Linked DNA regions of Homo sapiens. The protein of the gene in region 2 purifies or fractionates together with the protein of the main gene of each other region. This does not show direct contact. Each region holds a gene or a part of one and is shown on either strand. Other genes may lie near its edges.

Region 1 (3,500 bases), on a different chromosome or scaffold from region 2:
GGCTGGGCCTGTGGTACCATTTGGAATTGTGCAGTCCACAACCTGATCAACCATACCCAGCCATCTCAGGTGGCAATAGTGGTGTGTAGTGGTGGTTGTTGTTGCTTATTGTTATATTTACTTTTCCTGGAGTCCAAGGTCCCTAGGCCAAGAGGAGGGGAGAGGCCTGGTTGGCATAAACCAGGGGCTCCCTAAGGCAGCGGCGCCTTAGCTCAGACTTCAGCTCACACCTCTCTGCCTAAGAAGTGAGCCAGTTCATTCCCTGTAGGAGTAGATAAGTTGAGACTCCAGCTGTGGTATCTTGAGCTGAAGCAGCCTCCCCTGCATTCCAGAGTCCTTCTCCCAAATGTCACTGTCCAGTGCTCTTGGGAGCCTAAACCCTCACTCTGCCTCTTTGAAGGCTTGGCCCCTCTCCACAGTGCCCATCCCTGATGCAATATCTCCTTTGCCTCTCCAGGGCTCTGCCAGCAGACAGCCTTGGCACACAGGCACAAGGGCTGGAGCCCAGAGATGAGAGTGCCCAAGGGAGGTAAGTGCACCTAGAAGGAACTTCCCCTGGAGTCCTGGCCCCTCCTGAGACCGCCCTCCAAAAGTCCCCTCCATGCCCCCAGCCTCCATGATTGGGTGCCTGGGCAAACTCCCCTGGCTGGTTTTCACCTTTCTGTTCAGCCAGCAGGTTGGAAATCTGGTACTAGAAAAAGCTGCATCCCAGCAAGCATCATAGAGAGATGAGCATCTTCCTTGTCTATTAGGAAGACGATTCTCCAGGTGATAGGAGAGAGAAGGCTGAGTCCCAAAGTGGGCGGGGGACTTGCCCAGTGTCACGGAGCAGATTCAAGCCAGAACCCAAACGCTGTTGTGTCCCGTTCTCCTAATGTTAGTGTTTTAGGTATGCTTTCTCAGTACCCCACAGGAGTTCCTTGGCCTTCTGAATAGCTTCCTTGAGAAAAGGGTATTATTATTCCTTTTTTGGAGAAGAAAGTAGAAGCTCAGAGAAGTGATACCTTTTGTCCAGATCACCAGCTGGCAAGTGGCAGCAGAAGTGAGATTTGAACCTTGGAGTGTAGTACTCCAAGTTAGAAGCCCTCACCTATCATCCTCACTGCGAGGATGCCAGGATACCTCCCTTGCCAGGGTCCAGCAGGGTGATGAGGGTGTTGGGCAGGCCTAGTTCCCTGGGCTGGGCCCTCTAGCTCCTTCCACAGTGGGGTCCCTAGCTCTGGGTAACCAGGAAGCTACTTTCTGCTTTGTGGGTTCCAGGCTGCTTTCTGTGTCCCAAGTCACCCTGCTTTTTCTTCTTAAGCCATCGTGCAGGTCATTGCTGTCTTCTGCTCACTTCTGACTTGCCTGCTTTGAGCTGTTTTCTTCAGCCTTGGCCTGGTCTGATCCAGGATTCCTGCCCTGGCCATGCAACCTTGGGCAAGCTGCTTCATCTCTTTGAGCTTAGATACTGCAGGGAAAATGCTTTAGCAGAGTTTATGCTCCATAATTTCGAACACCTTTGCTGAACATAAAATGCTGAAGCTGGCCGGGTGCGGTGGCTCACACCTGTAATCCCAGCACTTTGGGAGGCTGAGGCGGGCAGATCACCTTAGGTCAGGAGTTCGAGACCAGCCTGGCTAACATGGTGAAACCCCATCTCTACTAAAAACACACAAAAAAATCAGCCAAGGTGGGGATGCTGTCACTGAAATCCTAATAACTGACAGGATTCTGGTCACAGGTCTCAGGGGAGAATTTCACTGAGCACCTGATGAAGACAAAGGGTCGTTGCAGGGATTTCGGAATGGCTTCATGTCCTGTTCAGCCTGCCTCCCCGCAGGAAGTAGCTCTGAATTAGCTTTCTCCATCACAGACCCTGAATCGAGGGTACAAATGAAGCCCCAACCTCTTCAGCAGAACTTCATCAGCACGTTTTTCTGAAGAGAGGGAAATTATCCAATGCACAGAGAGGCCGGTGACCCCAGCCTGAGATCCATCTCTGGTTTGTCAGCTGCTTCTCATATTTTCACAGCAGCCTCTGAGGTCAGTGGATCCACCCTGATTTTGCAGCTGAAGAGACTGTGGCTAAGATGAGGGAAGTGACTCTCCCAAGCCACATGGCCAGGAAGTCCTAGCCTCTTAGCAGTTTCCACCCCAGGCCTGAGACTGTGTTCCCTCCGCTTTGATGTTTATTTTCCACTTGCTATAGCCTAAGAAGGCCCAGGCAGCCCAAGCCCTTGCAGGTGGATAGGCCCAGCTGCAGACTGGGCCCTTGGGTGGTTTTGGGTGGAACCTCACATCCAAAGAGGCATGCTGTCTTCCCACTGGCTTCCACCAAACCCTCCGTTCACTAAGTCACTTGCAGTTCCCCAGTCGTGCTGCATCCTTTCCTGCCTGTGGCTCTGCGCTGGCTATTCCCTTTGCTGGTAACATCCTTGTTTCCCTTCTCCACCTGCCTGTTTCCTACCCACCACTGAAAATTCTGCATGAAGGCTACCTCCTGCAGGAGGCCTTCCCTCACCTACGCAGGTAGAACCCATCAATCTCTCTCAGGCACAGGTCCATGGTAAGAGTAGACTTTGGAGGCTGAGGCTCCCAGCACATAGCAGGTGCTCATTAAATGTTGGAATAAGTAAATAACCAATGATTATGATAGAAATCACTAATATTCTTGGGCCAGATGGGGTAACTCATGCCTGTAATCCCATCATTTTGGGAGGCTGAGGCGGGAGGATCACTTGAAGCGAGACCCTGTTTCTAAAAATTAGCCAGGTGCGGTGGTGTGTGCCTGTAGTCCCAGGTACTTGGGAGGCTGAGGCAGAGGATTGCTTGAGCCCAGGAGTCCGAGGCCGCAGTGAGCTATGATCTCTCACCACTCAATGCACTCCAGCCTTTTTTTTTTTTTTTTTTAGACGGAGTCTCGCTCTGTCGCCCACGCTGGAGTGCAGTGGCGCAGTCTAGGCTCACTGCAAGCTCTGCCTCCCAGGTTCACGCCATTCTCCTGCCGCAGCCTCCCGAGTAGCTGGGACTACAGGCGCCCGCCACCATGCCCAGCTAATTTTTTGTATTTTAGTAGAGATGGGATATCACCGTGTTAGCCAGGATGGTCTCGATCTCCTGACCTCATGATCCGCTGGACCGGGTGGCTCATGCCTGTAATCCCATCACTTTGGGAGACAGGTAGGAGGATCACCCAGGCCCACGAGTTCAAGAGCAGCCTGGGAAACATGGTGAGACCCCATCTCTTTAAAAAAACAAAAAAAATTGAAAAAAGTGCCCAGCAGGGTGCCAGGCACACAGCTAGTGCTTATGAAAGGTGCCCTCTGCATTCATGTCAGCAGCCTCTTGTTTGCAGTTATAGGGCTTTGCAGTTATTGGAGAGCTCACAGCTCACAGACCTCCCTGACTATGCATGTCCCCCTCTCTCCCCAGATGTGAGCCTGGCGGGCTGCCCGCTAACCTGTCGCTGAAGCCCCAGAAGCGGGCCCTCAGGCCAGGCCTACCCTGCCTCCGGCCCA
Region 2 (3,500 bases):
TTTCAACTATCCTCAACCTGCTGTTGACTCTTAGATCCTTATTTCTAGACCTGACCTCTCCTGAAAACTTATTCCAAATGTCTGCTAGACAAAATACTCTGCAGGCATCACACATACAACAAATAAAAACTTTGAACTCATTGTCTTTCTCTTCTTACCCCAAATTTTTCAACCTCTTTTATTTCCCAAAGTTTTAGAGGTGCCACCAGGTACCAGTTACCTGAGCCAAAATATAGGGGCCATCTTAGATTTTTTTCCTCTCCAACCAATCACCAAGATGGTCTGATTTTATCCAAGCCCCTCATCATCCTCTTCCCGTCTTCCTCCTCCCTATTACCACTACTTGAGTTCAGATCCACTTCATGACTGGTCTCTCTGCTTCTGATCTGTTTATCTTAAATCTATCTTCCAAAATGCTACCAGTGATCTGTCTTAAGCCCAGGGCTGACCATTCCTCTTTCCTTCAATGGCTCCTCATCAACTAGATCATGCTCTTTACATGATGTAACAGGTCTCCATGACCTAGACCCTACCTACTTTTCCAGCCTCATCTCTTATCATTTTCCACTTTATCTTCTGGTAAGAATGACCTCTACTGTACTTGTTCTTTCAATCCTCTACCCAGACATCATCTCTTTCAGGTAACTTAAATTCAGAACTTAACCAAATATAGTAGAATTATCTGTTTCCTAACTAAACTATGTATTATAGGATAGCTAGAGAGTGTTTTATTTGGCTTTGCACACCCAGTGTCCAGCACACTGTGAAGAACATCTACTGTTTTGGATATGGATATGACCAGCACCCATATCTCCTTTCTTTTGGTGGCAGGTTCTAGATTCTCCTTAGTTCATGTGACCTGGGTGCAGCTGCTTCCATCTTTTGGCTCCAAAAGTTGGCAAACCATTCAGATTTAGCTACTGAGAATACTAATACCCCTGTCCACAGAGTAAGTGGTGCATAGATTAAAAAGTAACCCAAGCCAGATCAATGGACATCAGTCTCAGGACATCTGGTAAAATTATCAGCAAAAAGAAGTGTTCTTTCAGTAAGAGTTACCGAAATGGAAAAAAGTCACCCACCCTGAAGCTGCCAATGGTCATTTTACCACCATATGGAAAAGCTTCCCTAAGAATGAAGCCAAAACAAAAAGGAAGCAAGCCGAAAGACACAGATAGGGATAGAGATAGGTTCCTGAATAGAGCCATGCCTGAAGCCAGTTCTGCTCCTTGATTTTCTATTTTCTTGAGCTACTGAATTCCCCTCTTTTAAATTAGTTTCTGTTATTTTTTAAGTTTCTTAACTTGAGTTTCTGTCATTTGCAAGTGAAAGAGTCCTGGTTTCTCAGAAACTGTTTATTACCACCTAGTTTATTAACTTTACATACACAGAATGTGTTCAAAGCTGTCATGAGGTAATAGGAATCCAGAGAAGACTTTGAGAGTCATTCTAACTGAGAAAACAGGTTTTATTACACATACAGTACTGGAGTTAGGCCTTGAAGGATCAGCAAGTGGGGCTACACCCAAGGCTACCCGAATGAGCTAAAGCAGACCTGTGTTCCCAGAATTTCACTGTAGGGTTCTTTCCCTATATCCTCCCACAAAAACATTCAGGAACAATCTAGCTCTGATCTATACCTTCCCATTACTTAAGCATTAACCTCTCAAATTCAAAACACCAAACAGCATGAACTATATAAAGGCTTGGAAACAGAAAAATGCAAAGTGTGTAGGCAAACAGTGAGATATCTAGCAAGACCAAAATATAGGATACTGGCATTTTACTCATTCATTTATTGCAAATATATACTAACACTGTGCCAGTGCTGGGGATTCAATGGTGAATAATACAAACTAGGAGTCTGCTCTTCTCTCTCCTAATAAGGCAATTAGCAAGCAAACAAACAAAAACATACATAAAGAAAATAAAATGGAGTAACGGTGGGTATGGGTAGAAGGTGGCTTGAGTTTGGGTGGTCAGGAAGGGTCTCTGAAAAGTTATGTTTCAGCTGAAATCTGAAGGAATTGGCCATACAAATAGTTAGGCAAAGAGAGTTGTAAGCACAGGGAAATCAGCTTGGTACACCTGAGAAACAGAATAAAGGCCAGTAAGGAAGAATATAGAGGATGAGGAGTGTGACAGAAAATTAGGTTGGAGTAGTGAGGTTTACAGAAGAGAACACTGAGAGATGAGGCTGGAAAGAATCATAACAGTTGACTAATAATACAAACAATATGTTAAATTCTTTGCAATATCTTTGAAGAGACAAATTGAGTAAAAAAATGAAGGATTAATTTATCAGAGATTAAAAAAGAAAAATGGAGAGTGATAGACCACATAAAAGAAAAAACGGATACCATAAATTTAATATACCCAAAGGAGATTTTTTTTTTTTTTTTTTGAGATGGAGTCTCACTCTGTCGCCCAAGCTGGAGTGCAGTGGCATGATCTCAGCTCACTGCAACCTCTGCCACACTGGTTCAAGCTATTCTCCTGCCTCAGCCTCCCGAGTAGCTGGGATTACAGGCACCTGCCACTGCGCCTGACTAATTTTTGTAGTTTTAATACAGACGGAGTTTCACCATCTTGGCCAGGTTGGTCTTGAACTCCTGACTTCATGATCTACCCACCTTGGCCTCCCAAAGTGCTGGGATTACAGGCGTGAGCCACCGCGCCTGGCCAGGAGATATTTTAGTAGGCATAGAGCATACCCAAAGTGACCTCTCTTGTAATAAATATATTAAGTGAAATCATCATGAACTATTGTGCCAACTCAAGGTAATTTATTATCCTTTCCCAAAATAATTAATGTCATCCACGACCACATTTCAGTCTGGAACTTCCCACTTGTTGAGATCTGCAGATCTCAATAGGTACCTTTGAACTTGGCTTCTCCAAAAGCTTATTTATTTCCAACAGAAAAATAATGAGGCCCACAGAAGAAAATGAATTTGCCCCAGGCCACACCACATGTGAGTATTAGAACAAGAATCAGAATCACAGAATCATATTCCCGGACTCCTAATTCAGTGCTCTTTCCCCTACATCACAGCCTGCCATATAAATCTTTTGAGGGCCAATGGTTAAGGCCTTGATCCTTAACCAATCTACATCTTAAGTCTCAATGCCTAAAATTTAAACAATCTGAAGATTGCTTTCAGAGAATGGCGAGAACTGCCAGACAGATAAGGAGTTACTGGCCTTACAAAAATACGTATTAATGTGATCTCTCATTAAGCATGTAAACTATGTCTTTTTCATGATTATTTCCCTAGCACCTAGCAAATTACTAAGCATAATAAAGGTTTATTGAACACATATGTATATTTATTGAACAGCTACATGTAGAGGACATCGGGCTGTCTTCTGTGGAGCCATCAACAGTGAGCATTTATTTACTATGAGCCAGGCCCTTTGTAAGAGCTATGTGTGTGAACACATTTAAACCTCACAGGAACTCTACATTATTACAACTCACCTCACAGATAGAAAAAAAT

The links. Proteins that work in one complex are often made in the same cells at the same time.
Region 1: the proteins of FAM114A2 (region 2) and TPST2 purify together in Homo sapiens (co-immunoprecipitation; one large-scale study listed by IntAct). This does not show direct contact.

The regions. Positions count from the first base shown.
Region 1 is NC_000022.11:26,541,633-26,545,132, reverse strand, and holds part of TPST2 (protein-tyrosine sulfotransferase 2), read left to right. Parts: intron 1-457; coding exon of another isoform or gene 458-529; intron 530-3,414; coding exon of another isoform or gene 3,415-3,500. UniProt on the Homo sapiens protein: Catalyzes the O-sulfation of tyrosine residues within acidic motifs of polypeptides, using 3'-phosphoadenylyl sulfate (PAPS) as cosubstrate.
Region 2 is NC_000005.10:154,004,411-154,007,910, forward strand, and holds part of FAM114A2 (protein FAM114A2), read right to left. Parts: intron 1-3,500.